Homo sapiens: one gene and its partners. The protein of the gene in region 1 interacts with the protein of each later gene in a pairwise test. Each region holds a gene or a part of one and is shown in the gene's direction. Other genes may lie near its edges. The genes, in order: HSCB, NQO2 and GFM2.

The links.
Region 2: the proteins of HSCB (region 1) and NQO2 interact in binary tests that used the Homo sapiens proteins (3 or more experiments, as listed by UniProt).
Region 3: the proteins of HSCB (region 1) and GFM2 interact in a two-hybrid assay, tested with the Homo sapiens proteins (one large-scale study listed by IntAct).

Annotation. Positions count from the first base shown.
Region 1 is NC_000022.11:28,755,025-28,758,010, forward strand, and holds the end of HSCB (iron-sulfur cluster co-chaperone protein HscB isoform 1 precursor), read left to right. Parts: intron 1-2,053; coding exon 2,054-2,145; 3' UTR 2,146-2,486; downstream 2,487-2,986.
Region 2 is NC_000006.12:3,006,306-3,010,041, forward strand, and holds part of NQO2 (ribosyldihydronicotinamide dehydrogenase [quinone]), read left to right. Parts: intron 1-162; 5' UTR 163-247; coding exon 248-254; intron 255-3,719; coding exon 3,720-3,736. UniProt on the Homo sapiens protein: The enzyme apparently serves as a quinone reductase in connection with conjugation reactions of hydroquinones involved in detoxification pathways as well as in biosynthetic processes such as the vitamin K-dependent gamma-carboxylation of glutamate residues in prothrombin synthesis.
Region 3 is NC_000005.10:74,757,067-74,760,802, reverse strand, and holds part of GFM2 (ribosome-releasing factor 2, mitochondrial), read left to right. Parts: intron 1-1,376; coding exon 1,377-1,434; intron 1,435-1,856; coding exon 1,857-1,954; intron 1,955-3,736.

The DNA of each region.
Region 1 (2,986 bases):
ACCTCATGATCCGCCCACCTCGGCCTCCCAAAGTGCTGGGATTACAGGCGTGAGCCACCGCGCCTGGCCCTAAAATTTTTTGAATACAAAAAAGATGTTAAATAGGCCGGGCGCGGTGGCTCACGCCTGTAATCCCAGCACTTTGGGAGGCCGAGGCGGGCGGATCACGAGGTCAGGAGATGGAGACCATCCTGGCTAACACGGTGAAACCCCGTCTCTACTAAAAATACAAAAAATTAGCCGGGCAAGGTGGCGGGCACCTGTAGTCCCAGCTACTCAGGAGGCTGAGGCAGGAGAATGGCGTGAACCGGGGAGGCAGAGTTTGCAGTGAGCCAAGATTGCGCCACTGCACTCCGGCCTGGGTGACAGAGCAAGACTCCATCTCAAAAAAATAAAATGTTAAATAAATTAAATTGAGAAATGAAATACGACCAAGGCCTTCCAAGTCCCTGGTTGACATTTTGCCATTACATCTCCCTTCCACAGTAACCACTCCTGAATTTTGTGTTACTCATTCCCTTGCTTTTCTTGATAGTTTTAACCATATATGTACATAATAGTATATTATTTAGTCTCACATATTTTTCTTTATATAAATAATACATATCCTTCTGTGACTTTTTTGCTTAATATTTTATTTTTGGAGTCATCTGGAATGATGCAAATGGTTATAACATATCTTCATTTTAGCACTCTTCACATTGTGTTTTACTTATCTAAGTCAGGTTTTCTCAACCTTGGCACTACGGATATTGTAAGCCAGATAATTCTTCGTTTGGGGGAGCTGTCCTGAGTACTATAAGATGATTAGCAGCATCCCTGGCCTGTACCCACCAGATGTCAGTACTACCTCCCAGCTGTGACAACCAAAAATATCTCCAGACATTGCCAGATGTCCCCATGGGGGCAAAATCATCCCCAGTTGAAAATCACTGGTCTGGCCAGGCATGGTGGCTCACACCTATAATCCCAGCACTTTGGGAGTCCAAGGCAGGCGGATCACTTGAGATCAGGAGTTTGAGAGCAGCCATGGCCAACATGGTGAAACCCTGCCTCTACTAAAAATGCAAAAATTGGCCAGGCATGGTGGCGCACACCCTGTAGTACCAGCTACTCTGGAGACTGAGGCATGAGTATTGGTTGAACCCGGGAGGTGGAGGTTGCAGTGAGCTGAGATCACGCCACTGTACTCCAGCCTGGGCAACAGAGTGAGGCTCCATCTCACAAAAAAAAAAAAAAAGGAAAATCACCGGTCTAAAGGTGTCTTTCTTGGGAACTATAAGCCCCCGGAGGGTACCTCTGTGCCTCAGCACCTGAACTGTAAGCCCCCTGAAGGCAGCTCTATGCCTCAGCACCTGGCATAGAGGAAGCATTCAGTGCTTTCATATCCTCAGTATACCACCACATGTTAGGGAGAAATTTTTAAAACACAACCACCCACCCTTTTTTTTTTTTTTTTAAAGAGACAGGGTCTCACCCTGTCGCCCAGGTTGAAGTACAGTGGCACAGTCATAGCTCAGTGCAACCTCAAACTCCTGGGCTCAAGGGATCCTCCCACCTCAGCCTCCCGAGTGGCCAGGACTACAGGCATGTGCCACCATGCCTGGCTAATTTTTTATTTTATTTTTTATTTTTTATTTTTTATTTTTGGTAAAGACAGGGTCTTGCTTTGTTGCCCAGGCTGGTCTTCAATTCCTGGGCTCAAGCCATCCTCCCGCCTCAGCCTCCCAAAATGCTGGGATAGCAGGTATGAGCTCCTGCATCTAGCTTCCACCACCCATTTATTACTTGGGACTGTCCTGAAGAGAATCAACTTCTCTAATTTATGTGAATCCTGTACACATGCTCTTACACAACTCTCGCCCCATTTGGTTTATCCCTGTGTCTCCTTAACAATCCAGATGTTCTCCCTCTTCGTTGCTCAGTCTTACTGAGGAATTGATGAGCCCTCCGGACCCCAGGGCTCCACTTATATATCGCTGCCCTAGTCATCAGAGTTGGTTTTATTCTTGCTTGAAATGAAGCCTGACTTCAGTGTCTCTGTCTATTTCAGATGACTTTGAAGAAGCCAAGGAAATTTTGACAAAGATGAGATACTTTTCAAATATAGAAGAAAAGATCAAGTTAAAGAAGATTCCCCTTTAATTGTGGATAGTTTAAAGTTTAAAAAATAAAGTTCTTGCTGGGCACAGTGGCTCACACCTGTAATCCCAGCACTTTGGGAGGCTGAGGTGGGTGGATGACAAGGTCAGGAGTTCAAGACCAGCTTGGCCAACATAGTGAAACCCCGTCTCTGCTGAAAATACAAAAATTAGCCGGGCATGGTGGCGCGTGCCTGTAATCCCAGCTACTTGGTAGGCCGAGGCAGGAGAATCGCTTAAACCCGTGAGGTGGAGGTTGCAGTGAGCAGAGATCACGCAACTGCACTCCAGCTTGGGCAACAGAGTGAGACTTAATCTTGAAAAATAAATAAATGAAAAATAAAATTCTTGTATATTTCTTTTCTGGCTTCTGGTAATTGGGAATAGATAAGCCTTTACCGTTTATATCATCTTAATTAAGCCTATGGCTCAAGCATTAGTGGATGGCAAAGTTTGTCATGTGGGAAGAAACACAGCCTAGTCAGAGCTTGGGTGGTCAGTTCTTCATCTGATACTTGATACAACATGACCCCAGTGTAGGCTAATGGTTGAAGAGGTGGAGATGGGGCCAATTTGAGGCCCTACAAAGAGGAATCCAAAAACTTCTCTGCAAAGGGCCTGGTAGTGAATATTTTCAACTTTGTGGACTATATCAAGGGTCCCCAACCTGTTAGGAACTGGACCCCACAGCAGGAGGTGAGTGGCAAGTGAGCGAGCAAGCAAGCATTACCGCCTGAGCTCCGTTTCCTGTCAGATCCGCTATGGCCTTAGATTCTCAAAGGAACATGAACCCTATTGTGAACTGCACATGTGAGGGTTCTAAGTTGCATGCTCCTTGTGAGAAT
Region 2 (3,736 bases), on another chromosome or scaffold:
CCTCTGAGGCCTAAATCTCCAGAAGATTCCTGGCCTCTCTTGAGAGGTCTTTCTCTGATGTGTTTGCGTGTCTGTCAGGAAGCAGCAGTGATGCCTAGATGTGGTACATTCGACCTCACCTATGCCTCTCCCCACCCCCTCTGGGTTCGTTTTGTCTTCCAGATTGCTGGACTCGCTGAAGAGAGACTACGCAGGAAAGCCCCAGCCACCCATCAAATCAGAGAGAAGGAATCCACCTTCTTACGCTATGGCAGGTAATGATTCACTATTGTGGAGTAAGACTTTTTTTTTTTTGAGATGGGATTTTGTTGTATTGCCCAGGCTGGTCTCAAACTCCTGAGCTCAAGTGACCCTCCCACATTGACCTTCCAGGTGGGAGTTAGACTCTTAATCAGAAATTGGATACATTGTTGTAAAAAATCCAAGCCACGTGGAAGTGTATAAACTATCTGGAATTATCTTGTTTTCTATGTTCTCACTTGTTTCATTGTTCCTTTCGACTCCCTCCAGAATTTAGGTTCCTCAAAAGTGGGGCCCTGCCTATCCTGTCTTTGCTGTGCCTCCAGGCCCTGAAATTCTCCCTGGGCTGTAGCAGGGGCTCAAGTGAATGAACCCCAGGAGGCATCTTGGGTAAAAATTCAGTACGATTCTATCTTTGCTTTTGCAACTGCTTATCATGCACATATACATGAACATGCAATCTCTCAACTTTTTAATTTCACCTAACGATATAACATGGAGAGCCTTTCGTGTTAGAACGCACAGGTTCACCTTACTCTATACATTATGGTGTAGATTCGGATTTTCGCCCTTGGCACCACTGACATTCTGGGCCAGATAATCCTATGTTTTGGGGGGTCATCCTGTGCACCCTGTTTAGCACCTAGCACCATCCCTGGCCTCTGCCCACCAGATGCCAGTAGCACCCCTCCCCCACCGGCTGTGACAAACCAAAATGTCTCCAGGCATTGAGAAACGTCCCCTAGCAGGCACAACACTGCCCCAGTTGAGAACCATTGGTGTAGGTATTTCATTTGCATCTATTCTCCTGTTAAGCCCCTAAGTATAGTTCCTTTATTGAAACAAGAGTCTGAGAAAGTAAAATTAAAATGTTAACCATGAATCTAACTTATGGAATTCAACCTTTGTAGCCAGCTCAATGCCCTGAAACCCATTGCTTCAAACTGATACGTGTATCTTTTCCTTAAAGTGTCATTATGAAAAATTTAAATCAAGAGTTTAACATCTTCTTAAAGGTGACCAGGGTAAATTTAATTAAGCAAATCACCAGGCTGCCTCCCAGACGAAGTCAGTATATAAGCCTGGAGACTCTTTCCAATGAGGAAAATACTGCTTCAGAAGCCCCTGGTGTGAACGATACTGCCAGTGCCAGGAGGGCCTGACTCTTCCTAGAGTCCTCTTTGTTATCAGCATCACCACTGAAAGATGGGCTCCATGTGGCCCTGCCTTCCCATGAGACCAGCGGGTCTGATTCCTCATGTTTTGTTTAAGTGTCAGATTTGATGGACTGGGGGAGATGGAAGCAGAACTGTGCCACACTGAAAGGTGCCTGTAGCTGATATCTGCAAATGTAGGGTTAGCATGGAAGACTAATTCCAGCAGTTCTTTATTTTGGTGTTAGGGAGCTGGTCTAAACCTTCTTACAGAGGATAACCAAATTAGGTTGGGCTTTTAAAAGATTTAGTGGTGGTATTTTTGAGGAGATATAATTTGACCCATTGTATTGTGATGTTGAGCTATGAATAACTGGATTTTTAAAATGCCCATTGCTTTAAAACTGCCACCTATTAGAAAGTTTGGTATTTCTGGGGCCAGGTGCTGTGGCTCATACCAGTAATCCCAGCACTCTGGGAGGCCAAGGTGGGCAGATCACCTGAGGTCGGGAGTTCGAGACCAGCTTGACCAACATGGAGAAACCCGGTCTTAACTAAAAATACAAAAAATTATCCGGGCGTGGTGGCGCATGCCTGTAATCCCAGCTACTCAGGAGGCTGAGGTAGGAGAATTGCTTGAACCCGGGAGGCAGAGGTTGCAGTGAGCTGGGATCGTTGCTCCAGCCTGGGCAACAAGAGCGAAACTCTGTTTCAAAAAAAAAAAAAAAGAAAAAGAAAAAAGGAAAGAAAAGAAAGTTTGGTGTTTCTGGCCAAGTGCGGTGGCTCATGCCTGTAATCCCAGCACTTTGGGAGGCCAAGGCGGGTGGATCACTTGAGGCCAGGAGTTCAAGACCAGCCTGGCCAACATGGCAAAATCCCATCTGTACTAAAAATACAAAAAATTAGCTGGGCGTAGTGGCACACATCTATCGGGGGAAATTCAGCCAGATATTGGGCGAAATTCACCCCCAATATTTCACGTAGGTTCTTTTCTATATTTCCTAAGTGTCGGCCGGTCTGAGAAATAAACGGACAGAGTACAAAAGAGAGAAATTTTAAAGCTGGGTGTCCAGGGGAGACATCACATGTCGGCAGGTTCCGTGATGCCCCCAAGCCGTAAAACCAGCAAGTTTTTATTAGTGATTTTCCAAAGGGGAGGGAGTGTACAAATAGAGTGTGGGTCACAGAGATCACATGCTTCACAAGGTAATAGAATATCACAAAGCAAATGGAGGCAGGGCGAGATCACAGGACCACGGGACGGGGCGAAATTAAAATTGCTAATGAAGTTTTGGGCACCATTGTCATTGAGAACATCTTATCAGGAGCCAGGGTTTGAGAGCAGACAACCGATCTGACCAAAATTTATTAGGCAGGAATTTCCTTGTCTTAATAAGCCTGGGAGCGCTACGGGAGACTGGGGCTTATTTCATCCCTACAGCTGGACCATAAAAGACAGCTGCCGCCCCGAAGCGGCCATTTCAGAGGCCCACCCTCAGGGACGCATTCTCTTTCTCAGGGATGTTCCTTGCTGAGAAAAAGAATTCAGCGATATTTCTCCCATTTGCTTTTGAAAGAAGAGAAATATGTCTCTGTTCCGCCTGGCTCACCGGCAGTGAGAGTTTAAGGTTATCTCTCTTGTTCCCTGAACATTGCTGTTATCCTGTTCTTTTTTCAAGGTGCCCAGATTTCATATTGTTCAAACACACATGCTCTGCAAACAATTTGTGCAGTTAACACAATCATCACAGGGTCCTGAGGCAATATACATCCTCCTCAGCTTATGAAGATGATGGGATTAAGAGATTAAAGTAAAGACAAGCATAGGAAATCACATGGGTATTGATTGGGGAAGTGATAACTGTCCATGAAATCTTCACAATTTACGTTCAGAGATTGCAGTAAAGACAGGCATAAGAAATTACAAAAGTATTAATTTGGGGAACTAATAAATGTCCACGAAATCTTCACAATTTATATTCTTCTGCCATGGCCTCAGCCAGTTGCTCCATTCGGGGTCCCTGACTTCCCACGAAACACACCTGTAGTCCCAGCTAGTCAGGAGACTGAGGCATGAGAATCACTTGAACCTGGGAGGCAGAGGTTGCAGTGAGCTGAGATCATGCCACTGCATTCCAGCCTGGGTGACAGAGTGAGACTGTCTAAAAAGAAGAGAGAGAAAGAGACAGAAAGAAAAGAAAATTTGATATTTCTTAGCTTCAATTACTATGATGCACCTGAACATTCAATTTTCATCTTAGTCTTCATTGAATTTAACAGAGAGAGGTTGTTCTTCAAGAGGAACTGTTTCTTATCCTGATTTAGGTAAGAAAGTACTCATT
Region 3 (3,736 bases), on another chromosome or scaffold:
ATTTTTTACTTCTTGGCTATTTCCTTGAGATTATTAGGGGCGGGAGTGTTCAGATAGGTGCCAGAAGGAAATACTAGTAGAGTTGTGCTCCTTATCTGAGGAACACGCTGATGAACTGAGCAAAGGAAAGGTTGGTGGCTTTAGTAGCTAGTTTGCAAGTTTAACATGTGAGTGTAATTGTAGAGTGCTCTTGTGAATTTCTTTTTCTAGTTTATTTCTGTTTTTTATGCAAGTGTTTTCTGTCAAGAGAGATTTACTAGAATAATTTATTTTGAGGATTGTTATAAGTAGTTTGGCTAAGTATTTGGGATTGTTTAGGTTAGATACATGGCATCAGAAGCTGGAAGGTGGAGGAGTTGACTTACTTTTGAATGTCCTTTCTGTGTTTGAAACAAGCAAGTGTATGGTAGACTCTATGAAACTAGTTTAATTCTGTTGCTGTTCTCATTACTGTGTTTGTCATGTGAGAATAATAGAATAAAAATACTGATTGGCTGTTGACTTACAAGGGCAGATTAATTTAATGGGCTACGTTATTGGTGTGTATCTAGGTCTCTGAATTTGGCTAATATGAATTTAACTGTAGTAGTATAGATTATCTTTTGATCTTCAAACCACCATGAAGTTTCAAAAATAATATAAAATTCTCCTTTTTGTATTATAGAAACATGGGAGAAATGGTTTAAATAACAGGAAGGCTTTAATTAAATTTACAAATGTAACTGCCTTGTTTCTTTAGAAATTACTTCTTAATATTAGTAAACTATATATTAAGCATAGAATAAGCCATATGGACTTTTTTATTTAAGAAATACTGCTTGGCCTTTCAAAAGTATTAAATTGTTATAGCTTCTATTCAGTGAAACCTCCCAGGCAGTCTTTAAAGGTATTGTGTCCTGGGATTGCTGAGGAAGGCAAGTTCCAAATTGTATAATAATTCATTATCAGCTGACATGAGGATCACTCTTAGCTCTTCAAACCCTGGAAAAGGCAGGTTTATAGGACTGTGCATTTAAAATTTTTTCTTTGATTCAGGATCATTGCCTTAAGATTATTATTATGAGCATTTATTCTAGTTCTACAATTTTGTAAATGGAAGTGAAGTAGGTGGCAGAGATTGGGGTGAATCTGTATTTTTCTGAGGATATGATCTAGAACTTGATGTTTAAAACTTTTACCTTGTTTTATTGTCATCCATAGCTTTCCTTATACATTGCAAGGAAATAAATTTTAGTTTATTTTAGATTTATTTAGCTTGAATTTTACTTTATTTGGACTTACAGTATTTGCTTAAAGTTATTTTAAAGTCTTTCATTTATAAATTAAAGGAAAATTTCATAAATGTAACAGTTCAATTTTAACTTTCTTTTCATTAGGCTTAATAGGAAATGATATCAAATCCCTTCATTCCATCATCAATCCTCCCATAGCTAAGTAAGTACTATCATTATATCATGCTTTTCCATAGACTGTCACGAAAATTTACAGGTTTTTTCTGATGGACAAGAGTGAATGCTGTAATTTCTATGACTTTCTGCCCTAGCCAATTTTAAGTAGATGTTGATAATGTATCTTAGCTATTTTTTCTCAATTAATGCTAAAAATTTTTAATGTAACAACAGCACACTTTTCTAGAATGAATATAAGATAGTCTCAAAATTGTAGGTTGTAGTTAGCCCTTTTGTTACTTAGCTATCTTATCAGAGTAATGTGGATATACTCTAAATGTTTTCCATTTTTCTAGTTTTTACACAGTTTTATAAATTATAGAAATACCAGCTTTGAAATTTGGATAGCATATATACTTTGGTTTTACAATTTTAGTAAAGTTTACCTTATTTTTTCCTTTTAAACAGAATCCGTAATATTGGAATTATGGCTCATATTGATGCAGGCAAAACTACCACCACAGAAAGAATATTGTACTATTCCGGATATACAAGATCACTGGGAGGTTAGAATGGATTCCTCCTCTTCCCACCCCCCCATTAGCAAAAGCATCATTGGAAAATATTTTGGTTAACAAGTCAACTTACACACCTTGAATATGGCATAGAGCTACTGATGTCTAATCCACAATTTAAAGATAAGATAGTTGCAATACCCACCAAAGGGTCTTCTTAGATTCAACTAAATATTCAGACTTGTAAGACTATCATAGGCCCCACTGGACACTCGTCTACTCAGAATGCTACAGGACAGGAACCACAGCTTACCAACAGACCAGCATTAGGTGTTTCTTTCTAGTAGAGTCCTTATAGCAGTCCCCGTAGCTATCTGGGAGCTATCTTCTTTGGCTGCTCCAGAGTAATGGATTAGATGCAAGGTGACAAGATTCATAGGAGCCACCCTAGCTTAGAAGATTCATGCCCCATAGGAATGAATGTCTCTTGTTATAACTTCATAGGCATAGCTTCCAGGTGTCACCTAAGGTACATGCCATACACAGGGAAGCCCAGAGTTCGGTATCTCCATAAGGTACTTATATATATAATTCATTTATAGTTCTTCGCAATTCAGATTTAGTTTACCAATCAGAAGTTGTTTTTTCCATAAGTTATATTGCCTAGGAATGTAGTTGACATACCTCTGTTATCTGGTTTCTAGAAGAAAAGAACCAAAAAAAGTAACCAGAAGTTAAATTCTCACATCAAAGAGGATTTTGTTAATCCTTAACCAAGTTATCTTTTGTCTTTTAAATTGTAGTTAAAAAAACATAAAATTTACCATCTTAACTATTTCTAAGTGTTAACTATTTTGGTAGTGTTAAGTATATTCACATTATTGTGCAACCAATCTTCAAAACATTTTCATCTTTCAAAATTGAAATTCTATACCCATTAAACAACTCCCATTTTCCCCTTTCCCCGGTCCCTTGCAACCATCCTTCTACTTTTTCTTCATGACTTTGACTACTCTAGGTACCTCATATAAATGGAATCGTAAGTATTTGTCTTTCTATGACTGGTTTATTTCACATAGTACAGTGTCCTCAAGGTTCATCCATGTTGTAGCATGTGTCAAGATTCCTTTTTAATTTTTTAATTTTTTTTTTTTTTTTTTTTTTTTTTAGAGACATAGGCTCTTGCTCTGTTGCCCAGGCTGGAGTGCAGTGGCCCAGTCACAGCTCACTGCAGCCTTGAACTCTTGGGCACAAGAGATCCTCCTGCCTCAGCTTCCTGAGTAGCTGGGACTACAGGCAGGTGCCACCACACTTGGCTAACTTTTGTATTTTTGGTAGAGACAGGGCCTCAGTGTGTTGCTCAGGCTGGTCTCAAACTGGGCTCAAGTGAAGATTCCTTTTATAAGGCTGAATAATATTCCATGTGTTTTTATTTATTTATTTCAAACTAATGCAGTTTATTATAACAAGAAGGAAATCAAGCTTTACAGTAATTATAGTCACTAAGCTGAAAAATCACCTACAAAAGTCATGGCAATAACTTATTTACAGTTAAAAAAGAGAATATCAAGATCTTGCTCTCATAGTAAGGTAAACTAGACATGTACACAATCTTATGATGCCAAGAAACTGAATATATAAAAATAGAACCCACATAGAATGTTCTCTCTCTCTTTTATATACACACACATTTGCTCTGTGATTGCCCTTAATTTTATGTCTTTATCATAACTGGTTTATTATATTTATAATTAAAGATAATCTTAGACTTTATATTCTAAAAAGCAACTAGGTTAACAGTTTTCTCCCCTAAGGCTTATTTTATTTTATTTT